Linked DNA regions of Homo sapiens. The protein of the gene in region 1 purifies or fractionates together with the protein of each later gene. This does not show direct contact. Each region holds a gene or a part of one and is shown on either strand. Other genes may lie near its edges. The genes, in order: OTC, NDUFAF7 and MCCC1.

What was found.
Region 2: the proteins of OTC (region 1) and NDUFAF7 purify together in Homo sapiens (affinity purification with mass spectrometry; one large-scale study listed by BioGRID and IntAct). This does not show direct contact.
Region 3: the proteins of OTC (region 1) and MCCC1 purify together in Homo sapiens (affinity purification with mass spectrometry; one large-scale study listed by BioGRID and IntAct). This does not show direct contact.

What each region holds. Positions count from the first base shown.
Region 1 is NC_000023.11:38,408,002-38,411,658, reverse strand, and holds part of OTC (ornithine transcarbamylase, mitochondrial precursor), read right to left. Parts: intron 2,918-3,657; coding exon 2,864-2,917; intron 2,784-2,863; coding exon 2,634-2,783; intron 1-2,633. UniProt on the Homo sapiens protein: Catalyzes the second step of the urea cycle, the condensation of carbamoyl phosphate with L-ornithine to form L-citrulline. The urea cycle ensures the detoxification of ammonia by converting it to urea for excretion.
Region 2 is NC_000002.12:37,245,001-37,248,657, forward strand, and holds part of NDUFAF7 (protein arginine methyltransferase NDUFAF7, mitochondrial), read left to right. Parts: intron 1-1,051; coding exon 1,052-1,195; intron 1,196-2,455; coding exon 2,456-2,629; intron 2,630-3,134; coding exon 3,135-3,350; 3' UTR 3,351-3,657. UniProt on the Homo sapiens protein: Arginine methyltransferase involved in the assembly or stability of mitochondrial NADH:ubiquinone oxidoreductase complex (complex I).
Region 3 is NC_000003.12:183,068,367-183,072,023, reverse strand, and holds part of MCCC1 (methylcrotonoyl-CoA carboxylase subunit alpha, mitochondrial isoform 1 precursor), read left to right. Parts: intron 1-666; coding exon 667-814; intron 815-903; coding exon 904-1,025; intron 1,026-3,657.

The DNA.
Region 1 (3,657 bases):
AGTCTCGCTCTGTCACCCAGGCTGGAGTGCAGTGGCAAAATCTCGGCTGACTGCAACCTCCGCCTCCAGAGCTCAAGCAATTCTCCTGCCTCAGCTTCCTGAGTAGCTGGGACTACAGGCATGTGCCACCATGCCCAGTGAATTTTTGTATTTTTAGTAGAGACGGGATTTCACCATATTGGCCAGGCTGGTTTTAAACTCCTGACCTCAAATGATCCGCCCGCCTCGCCTCTCAAAGTGCTGGGATTACAGGCATGAGCCACCGTGTCTGGCAAGTCTTTTTTTTTTTTTTTTCTTTTTAAATTTAAGAGAGTACCACTTCAAGTTACACCAGTAACTCAGTTTTCTGTTATTCTATTTAGTGGAACAGTAGACCTTTCAGTAAAGAACTCTACTAATGTAATATGTGGCTGATAGCAAAAGTCACCAATTATAGTCCACTATATTTAAAAAGTTGCTTTGGTGTGATAATATTATATTTGGAGCTGATCTCCAAATTATTATTTTTAGCACTTGAAGCATACTCCATCACTAGTTAAAACAATTTAGATAAAGGTAATGAGGTAGGGGTGAATTAAACAGGATTATAAGCACTATGCATTAGATTTTTCATTCTTAATGCAAATGTACTAGCAGTTTTAATTTTCTCCAACAGTTAATTGCTGAAAGTTACATTTCCCTATATATTTCTATTGTTCACATACAGATTCAAAACTACATTCCTTCATACTTTCTTACCTCAAAATTACTGCCTTTGTACTACAATTTTGTTTTACCTCCCACCCAAGCTCTAGGTTCAGGACATTTTGAGTTTCTAAAATACCAGCAAAATTACATGGAAAAAAGTAACATTTATAAATGCCATACATCAACAAAATGACTGTTCTTCAATCCTACAGTTCCAGCACCAGCAACACATATAAGATTGGCCAAGCAAGTGTAAGTATGAAGCAATTTATATAATTTAAAATATCTCCATGAAAATATATTCCACATGATAAGGGATTAGCCATAATATATAAAGAGCTCCTATAACCAATAATAGAAAAGGCAAAAAAATAGAAAATGGGCAAAAAATGTAATAGCAATTTATAGAAAAAAGGGCAATGCCCAATAAACATAAAAAGATGCTTAACTTCATTAGTAATCAAGGAATTGCAAATTTTAACAAAGATGAGGTGCCATTTTTCCTCCAGATTTAGAAAAATTAAAAATGTAAATAAAAGCTAAACATGGAGAGGATATGGAAAAATAACTATAATATACAGCTGCAGCAGTATACATTTTTAATCTTCTTTGGGTAAGCAATTTAGCAGCACTCTCATATTTTAAAAAATTTATACCACTTCACCCCAAAATTCCTCTCCTCAGGATCTTATTCTCCAGTAATATTTGCACAAAGAAATATGGATAAGCAAGTTCATTGCAGCATTTTTGTAATCGGCATTCTCAGAAATAGCCTAATTTATCAATAGGAAACATTTTAAGTAAATTATGGTTCCACTTATCCTTTGGAATTCTATGCAGCAACTAAAAAGAATAAAAAATATCTAAATGAGTGAGCAAGAAAATCTAAGATTTGTTAAGTGGAAAAAGTAAGAATAATAATAAATAAATAAGTAATGTCTAAAATATCATTTACAAAAAAATCAATAGTTATGTGTGTATTGAGGCATACATATGTAAATGCACAGAAAAGGTCTGCAAAGAGACACATCAAATTATTAAACAGAGGCTACCTCTAGGAATAGTCTCTGTTAAAGAGATGGGAGAAAGACATTTTTACTTTTTATTTTTCAAACTTCTGTTCTATTTTATATATAACAATAAAGAACTTGTATTTATGTATTACTTTATCAATATAATATTAATTGTACTTGCTTAATCCCTTTCTCCACCAAAGTAGATTTGTTGCTTTGCTGACAAAACCCCTGTGCATTTGGCTTTCAGGGTATTCCTCCAGAACATTGCTTCTCAAAGTGTGGCCCTGGAGGCAGCAGCACTGCATCACCTGGGAACTTGGTAGAAATGCAGATTCTCAGGTTTCACCCTGACCTACTGAATCAGAAACCCTGGGGGTGGGACCCAGCCAGCTGTGTATTAACAACTCCTCTGGTGATGCTAATACCTGCTCAAGACTGAGAAGCATTGTTCCAGATCTTACTGGAAGACAGCCAAACAGATGAGTCCCCTGGGAATGCCCTGGAGGGCATTAGCAAAACTAAACTGGATTTAGAGGTCCTTGGAAAATAGAGGCAAGGACTAGCCTGAGGAGCATAGTTAAGGGGCTTTTCTTAGGGGAGAAATCATAAGAAACTGCATGCATCAGAAGTAACCTAATTTCTCTAAACACACAAAGAGTAAAACACTGCAATGCCTCGATTCTTGTGAGAGGGAAAAGCCTGCTCCTCTCTTCTCAGTGGGTTTCAAATTCCTTCATCCAGCACAAAAATGCCTTTCCAAAGGACACAGCTAATCTTTGGAAGGAGAGAAGTCCCTAGGGGATACAGTCAGTGAGTCCTTTTATAGGGAATGAAAGGACAGTCTGCTCCCCCTAAAGTGAATAAGTGATTAGATGGTTCTGGCCTTCATGAATGGAATTAATGAACCTTCAGAGAGGCATCAATTTGTACCTTCATTGTAACCTGGTAACCTTGGAAAGCCTGGAGCCGCTTTTTCTTCTCCTCTTCTTGTCCCATGCTTATCCAAGTGTCTGTAATTAATACATTGCCTCCATGCGCTGCTTCCAATGGATCATTTGTCAGCAACAGCTTGGTACCATTCTAGCATACATAAACACGCTGGTTAAATAACTTCATGGGACAGTAAAAGGCAATAATAGCTTTACATGTAAAGAGCATACCTCTTTGGCATACTGCTCTGCCAACTTGGTTACACTAGCATCCGGCTCATAACCCTAAAGGAGGAAGAATTTAAATCTTATTTAGGTAATTTTATTATACATGTTTTCTTAAATATATATTATTTTCTTTTCAATATCGCGTCTCCTTCCCTTTTTCAAGATGTGGTCCCACCATGTTCAGTAGAATATGATTTTTACATCTAGAATTCCAAAACTCAATAGTGCCTTTTGGAATTTAAAGAGACAACCAATTGCCCCAGCTTTCACTATCTCCGACTTCTTTAATCATAAAGGCAAACATAAGGCATGGTGCTTTCTAACTCTTGGAAGCACCTCTTCCGGTTTCCATAATGGCTTAAGAGGATTATATTCAGAAGTGTGCAAATGAATGCATGTTTGTCTATCTTTGCACATGCTATCCTTTCTTGTCTGAAATTCTTTCTTCCACCCATTCCATGTGGATAACTTTTTCAGGTCTCAGTTGAAATGTCCCCTCCTCAGAAAAACCTTCCCTGACCATCCCAGCTAAATACTAACAGCTCCCCCTCCCCCATTACACACCTCTCATTCTTTTGCATTCCCCAGCAAGCCTTTTGAGGGCAGGGTGCTTGTTTTGAAAGGCATTGACAGAACAAATACATTGTTTTTGCTAAGATTATATATTTGTCCGGGATGGTTTGGTGAGGGCAGAGTCAGACTCTGGAGAGGCAAGCGAGGTGCCTAGGGCAAAACATTTAAGGAGGCGCTAGAAAAAATGTAAAGAAACACACATTCTCAGGGTCATGCATGCACAA
Region 2 (3,657 bases), on another chromosome or scaffold:
ATGTCAGCATGATCAGCGTGTCCACTGATGCCTGATGAGGCTGACTTCATGGTTTTTATAGTTAAGCCACAGTAATTTGATTGCACTATTAGCTAAATGGTTAGTTATATTTAATCCTCACAATAAACCTACAATATCTATAAGGAAGAAAACAACTCAGAAAGTTTAAGTAACTTGTCTACCAGTAAGCATAGGAAGAGCTGAGATTTAACTTCATCTGACTCTATGCCTGTTACCATAGGCAGACATCAGGGCAGGTCATTACTGCATTTCTATAATAAGGTGTTAGGAAGGAGTACAAGTTAATGTATGTTTTCATAATGAAGGGAAAGAAATACCACATTTTCAATCAGATCAGGAAGTAGTGAAATTTCATATATACTAGTCAGGTTGACAAGTGTTAATACTTAGTGTGATTTTGCTTTTTAAGCTAGTACACACTTATTGTGGCCCCTTAGTTAAGTGGACATCTTGGGGTAATAACGGTTTCAATACATTGGCACTAGTTTATAAGCCAGCGTTTCTTGATGTAGGGCATATCATTGGGATACTTTCTGGCACAACAGAGGGCATGATAATATAATTGTCTAATAGGGTCTGCTTCGTGTTATTGGATTTATACCATTTGTTCTTTCAGCACAATATTTTCATTGACTGTTATGTGCCTGGCACTGTTCTAGGCAGACAAAAAAAATCCCTTTCCCATGCTTTCAACCTAGAGGAATGTGTTTATATGATTTGTGATACAAAAGTAATTTTACATTAAATGATAATGCTCTAGGCCATCTGGGGGGATTGGGAGGGCATTTGCCTTTTTATAAAAGAGATTAAAATGTCTTTGTATATCAAGTGGGATAGCATCAAAGAACTAAGGAGTTTTGTATAATAAAAAGGGAGTCAGGTGAAAAGTTGAGTGTAGAGAACATACTCATATTAAGAATTTATTTTTATTAAAACTAAGAAATGCTCATTGAGGAAAAACCTGAAAAACCGTAAGGAAGTCATTCTTTTGAATGATGCATTTTGACTCTTGCAATGATCCCTTTACTAGCATGACGAAACAAGGGATCATGTTGAAGTGTGTCCTGATGCTGGTGTTATCATCGAGGAACTTTCTCAACGCATTGCATTAACTGGAGGTGCTGCACTGGTTGCTGATTATGGTCATGATGGAACAAAGACAGATACCTTCAGAGTATGTATAATTCAGTAACATGATTTATCAGAATTTCAGTGTTAGATCTGAAGCCCATTGAAGAGCTTTGATTTCTACAGTGCCTGGTATTGTTGTATTACATTATTTTATAGTTAACATTAATTCATGTTATTGTAATTCCCCTTAACCCTAGTTCTTACTGCTAACACTGAGTCTACTGTCCAGCCCTCCTTTAACAGGATCTGAATTGTGTACATTCTTCCTTAGTTGTAGAACCTATGTTTATATAAATCCAGATAAGCAGCTGAATAATACAAATGGAAAGATTTTCTTCACATTCTTAAACCTATCTGTAACCCCCTTCATTCAAGAAAAATTTTGGTACTTCTTTACAGATTTAAACTACCTACTGTAATCATTCTAGCTTTTTCTATCATATTTTCAACATTTTTTCCCTTTCCAGATGTATTCTTTTACACTGTTCCTAAACATCCTTTCTTAATGATCTTTGAATATAATCAATTCTATTCAATATACTTTAATTGAAAAACATTTAACTAAATGCTCTTAGTCATTTTCTAGGTCTGTGGTTCTTAATTTCTAACTTTATCTAAAAATAACCTGGATAGTTTGTTGAAAATACTCATTCTCTAGCCTTACCTCCAGGATTCTGACTGACCAGGTCTGGTTAGGGTCAGTAATATATTCTCAGGTGATTTTTTTTTAAGTAATTTCAACTTTTATTTTAGATTTAGGGGGTACATGAGGCAGGTTTGTTATTTGTTACATGGGTATATTGCATTGACTCTGAGGTTTGGGGTACGAGTGAGCCTGTCACCCAGGTGGCAAGCATAGTACTCAGTAGATAGATTTTCAGCCCTTGTTCCCCTCCTCCTGTCTCCCCTCTAGTAGTCACCAGTGTTTGTTCCCATAAGTATGTTCACGTGTACCCAGTGTTTAGCTCTAAGTGAGATGTACATGTGGTATTTGGTTTTGTCCCTGCATTAATTCACTTAGGATAATGGCCTCCAGCTATGTCTACGTTGCTGAAAAGGACGTGATTTCATTTTTTTTTATGGCTGTGTAGTAGTTTGTAGTGTATCTCAGGTGATTCTGATGCATGGTTGATGCATATACTTTGTAAAACACTGCCTAGGTGTTCCCTGCCTAGAGAATTAATGAGAGCTCTATTCCGTCACCTCAAGCATTAATGTAAATATTAAATAACTTTAATATGATAGCATTTCTTTAATCTTAATAACCATAAAAGGGCAAAAATCTGATTTCTTTATGTTCAAGGGGTTTTGCGACCACAAGCTTCATGATGTCTTAATTGCCCCAGGAACAGCAGATCTAACAGCTGATGTGGACTTCAGTTATTTGCGAAGAATGGCACAGGGAAAAGTAGCCTCTCTGGGCCCAATAAAACAACACACATTTTTAAAAAATATGGGTATTGATGTCCGGCTGAAGGTAAGGTTTATTTTATTTCACTGTTATTAAGTACTTTCATAGTATTTCAAAAATTACTTTAAATAGTATGTTCACCTGGCCTTAATGCTCTTGTAGTTAGCCAATCCTTGGTATTCCAGTCTTTTCAGGTAGTATAGGATTTAGTAACTAGTCTGGTAAGTTTTATGCATCTCCATGGGAGGTAGCATTAAGACTTCCAAATAGTGTTTTTGTTTGTTAAGAAAACTGCGTTTATGGGTATGAATTTTCTAACTGTTCTTCTGAGAACACCTAAACCTTACTGTAGATCAAACCCCCTGAGGATATTTGTTAAAAATGCAAATCCTTAGGTTTGTTTCACACCAATCTACATTTTTAATAAGTACTCTATGATTCTCAGGCAGGTAATCAGAAGTCACATTTTGAGTGCTGTTTTATTGGAATATTTGAGAGTCATTAGTATTGCTGCATGTAACTAGGAATCCTGTCTTCTGGTTATTTTTGCTAAGAATTTTTTTCTTTTCAGGTTCTTTTAGATAAATCAAATGAGCCATCAGTGAGGCAGCAGTTACTTCAAGGATATGATATGTTAATGAATCCAAAGAAGATGGGAGAGAGATTTAACTTTTTTGCCTTGCTACCTCATCAGAGACTTCAAGGTGGAAGATATCAGAGGAATGCACGTCAGTCAAAACCCTTTGCATCCGTTGTAGCTGGGTTTAGTGAACTTGCTTGGCAGTGATATTTCAGCTTGGACATTTTACCCTTCAGTCGGCCCAAGAAATCAAAATAAAGGAAACACATTTCATATACTGCAGGTAACAAAAGTCAAAGTATTTTATCTTTTCACAGCAAGAACAGTCCATGTTGTATATAATACAACCAACATTATAGAACTTTTAGGGTTGTGACTGGCTTTGGTGCAAATGTGTGCTCAAGCTAATAAGTTATTGTGAAACTGAGTTTCCTTTAACTTACAAAGCTAGTTGCCATATTTCTATTTTATTTTAAAAAGTAAACATGCGGCTGGGCGTGGTGGCTCATGCCTG
Region 3 (3,657 bases), on another chromosome or scaffold:
GGTGGCACGTGCCTGTGGGTCCAGCATCTTGGGAGGCTGAGGTGGGAGGATTGCTTGAGCCCAGGAGATCAAGGCTGCAGTGAGCTGTGATCACACCATCATACTTCAGTCTGGGTGACAGAGTAAGACCCCATCTCAAAAAAAAAAAAAAAAATTCAGCTGGGTATGGTGACACACACCTGTAGTCCCAGCTGCTTAGGAGGCTGAGGCAGAAGGATCACTTGAGCTCAGAAGTTTAAGGCTGTAGTGAAGTATAATTGCACCACTGCACTCTGGCATGGGCAACATTGTGAGACCCTGTCTCTAAAAAAAAAAAAGAAATAGTTTGTTTTACCTATAATATTTTAATTCTACCCTTCTGTTGTCATAGGCATAAGTTATTTATCTGTGACATAGAGAAATTCTATTGAGTTACAGAAAATACTTAATGTTTCTAATCAATATATTAGTATTTTGGGATTAAAAAATAGGGTGAGATGAGCTACCACATGAAATGAGGGAAACTAACTAATAGACATATTAAATTTGTATTATTTTGTCGTCTCAGACTCGATGTTTTCTTTAAAGAGTTCCATTGTAATTTATAGACTGGGCTATATTTATGTTTGTCTTGAATGAAATAATTTGTAGAATTTGGGGCATGTTGTTTTCTTTCCCACTCTAAAGCACATCCAAATCCATAATGGCTGCTGCTGGAGTACCTGTTGTGGAGGGTTATCATGGTGAGGACCAATCAGACCAGTGCCTGAAGGAACACGCCAGGAGAATTGGCTATCCTGTCATGATTAAAGCCGTCCGGGGTGGAGGAGGAAAAGTAAGATTGTGCATGCTTGTGTTTGCCAATTCAGGCTTGTCTTCTTTGTTTTATTTATGTTGTAGTCATAATCATCTTTTCTCTCTTAGGGAATGAGGATTGTTAGATCAGAACAAGAATTTCAAGAACAGTTAGAGTCAGCACGGAGAGAAGCTAAGAAGTCTTTCAATGATGATGCTATGCTGATCGAGAAGTTTGTAGACACACCGAGGTGGGTTGGCCTTATTTTTCTGACTCAGAGTTTAAAAATTAAATTATAAAAATAATGCATGCACATTCTATAAAATATAAAACTGTAGTAGTATATAAGTATATTATTACAAGTTTCCCAGTTCTGTCCTGTGATGTAACCACTGATTGTAGGATGGTATGCATTCTTCCAGCCATTTTCTATGTGAATAGAAACCTATATACATATACATACAGCAAACAAAATACATACCTAAGAACAGTGAATAGAATTTTTTTTTTTTTTTGGACGGAGTCTCTCATTCAGTTGCCCAGGCTGGAGTGCAGTGGCACGATCTCGGCTCATTGCAACCTCTGCCTCCCGAGTTCAAGCGATTGTCCTGCCTCAGCCTCCTAAGTAGCTGGAATTACAGGTATGCCCCACCATGCCTGGCTAATTTTTGTGTTTTTAGTAGAGATGGGGTTTTCCCATGTTGGTCAGGCAGGTCTCAAACTCCTGACCTCGTGATCCACCTGCCTCAGCCTCCCAAAGTGCTGGGATTACAGGCGTGAGCCACTGTGCCCGGCCAGTGAATAGAATCTTATACACTAATATTATATCACAGACATCTTTCCATGTCAGTAATTGTAGATCAGCCTCATTCTTTTTGTTGGTGACCTAGCGGTTCTATGATCTTGATATACCATTAATTCATTCAGTATGTTTCTTGTTGATGAAATTTAGGGTTTTTTTTCAATATTAGCAAATTATTGTAATAAATTCAGCTATATTTATAGAACTCTGTCAGTTGAGATGCTCAGGAAATGGAAGTAATTTTCTAAATTGAATTACAAGTGATATGCTGTTAATAGGAGCTAACACTTACATTGCACTTACCATGTGCCAGATTTTAAATATTTTACACATGCTAAATAATCTTGCTGTCCTTCTAATTCTAATATAATTCTTACAACAACCTCATTAGGTAAGTACTGTTTTCATTTTACAGGTGAGGACACTAAGCAACAGAATGGTTGTGTTGTGTTACTTTTCTGAGGTCACTCAGCTGTTAAGTAGTAAAGCTGAGATTTGAACCCAGGCACTTTGACTCCAGAGTTCATATCTAAGCCACTGCACTAAGCTACTTCTCTGGGTACCACTATAGCAAATGCAGTGTGAATCCCTATTTTTTTTTCTGGAATTTTATTTTCATGTTTGTTGTTTAAGATGCTGATTATAAAGTTTCTCATTTCATAGATTTTTATGACAATTGTTAAATTTTATATATATATGTGTGTGACCTGTAAGTCAAGTGAAAAGAATAATTTATTTGGGAACCATGACTGGAAAGAGATTTACCTTGAAGGTAACAGACTTGAAACTTCAGGCCCTTCTTTGACATTAATCTCTTCCAAGACCCTGACCTAATTTTGTATTTGCAGTTTTGTATTCTTCTCCTTAGAGAAGACCCCCAAATTGTTTTTTGTTTCAGGCCCTATAAAACAACTGTCCTGAGCATGGCATAGTAAATGAAATTCAATTAAGGCAAAAAAAAAGGGGGGGGCATTTCTAAGGTACATTGAAGGCTTCCTTTCAAGAAAGAATAGGCTAGCCATCCAAATCAGCATGCTCTTAAGTTAGAATTGTGGAGACATCAATAGCTTATTTCAGTAACTTATTTCAGAGACATCAATAGCTTATTTGAGTTATTATGTAACTCCATGCCTGCAGCATTTTTTGAATATGTAAGTTCTTTACTTATGAAATGTTAGCCATACATTGCGTCACATTATAATTTATTCCCCCAATAGCTGGAAAGCCCCTGGGAATCAAAGACCTGGTAGTATATACATTTTTATTTTTTGTATATATTGCCTGGCATACTACTTTCCTTGTAATAGGCATCAGTAATATTTTTTGAACTATAGAAGTAATATGAATACATTACAAATTTTTGGAAAATGCAGAAGATGGAAAACAACCCATAATTGTATTCTCCTAATTATTATTAATATTCTTATATACAGTCATGTGTTGCTTAATGACAGAGATACATTCTGAGAAATGCATTGTTAGGCAATTTCATTGTTGTGCACACATCATAGAGTGTCCTTACACAAACTGAGATAGTATAGTCAACTACACACCTAAGCTATGGTATAGCCTATTGCTCCTGAGCTACAAACCTGTACAAACGTTACTGTATTGAATACTGTAGGCATTTGTAACACAATGGTAAGTATTTGTGTATCTAAACATCTCAAAACATAGGAAAGGTAATGTATTGTGCTATTATGTCACTAAATGATAGGAATTTTTCAGCTCTATCATAATCTTATGAAATCACCATCCTATATGCAGTCTGGCATTGATGGAATGTCATTGTGTGGCACATTGTGTGACTCTATTTCTATTCTGTATTTCTAGTAATAACTTCTTTTTAATTGAAAGCAAGTTTATTAAGAAAGTAAAGGAATAAAGAATGGCTACTCCATAGACAGAGCAGCCCCAAGGGCTGCTGGTTGCCATTTTTATGGTTATTTCTTGATGATATGCTAAACAAGGGGTGGAGTATTCTTGCCTCCCCTTTTTAGACCATATAGGGTAACTTCCTGACGTTGCCATGGCATTTGCAAACTGTCATGGTGCTGGTGGGAGTGTAGCAGTGAAGACG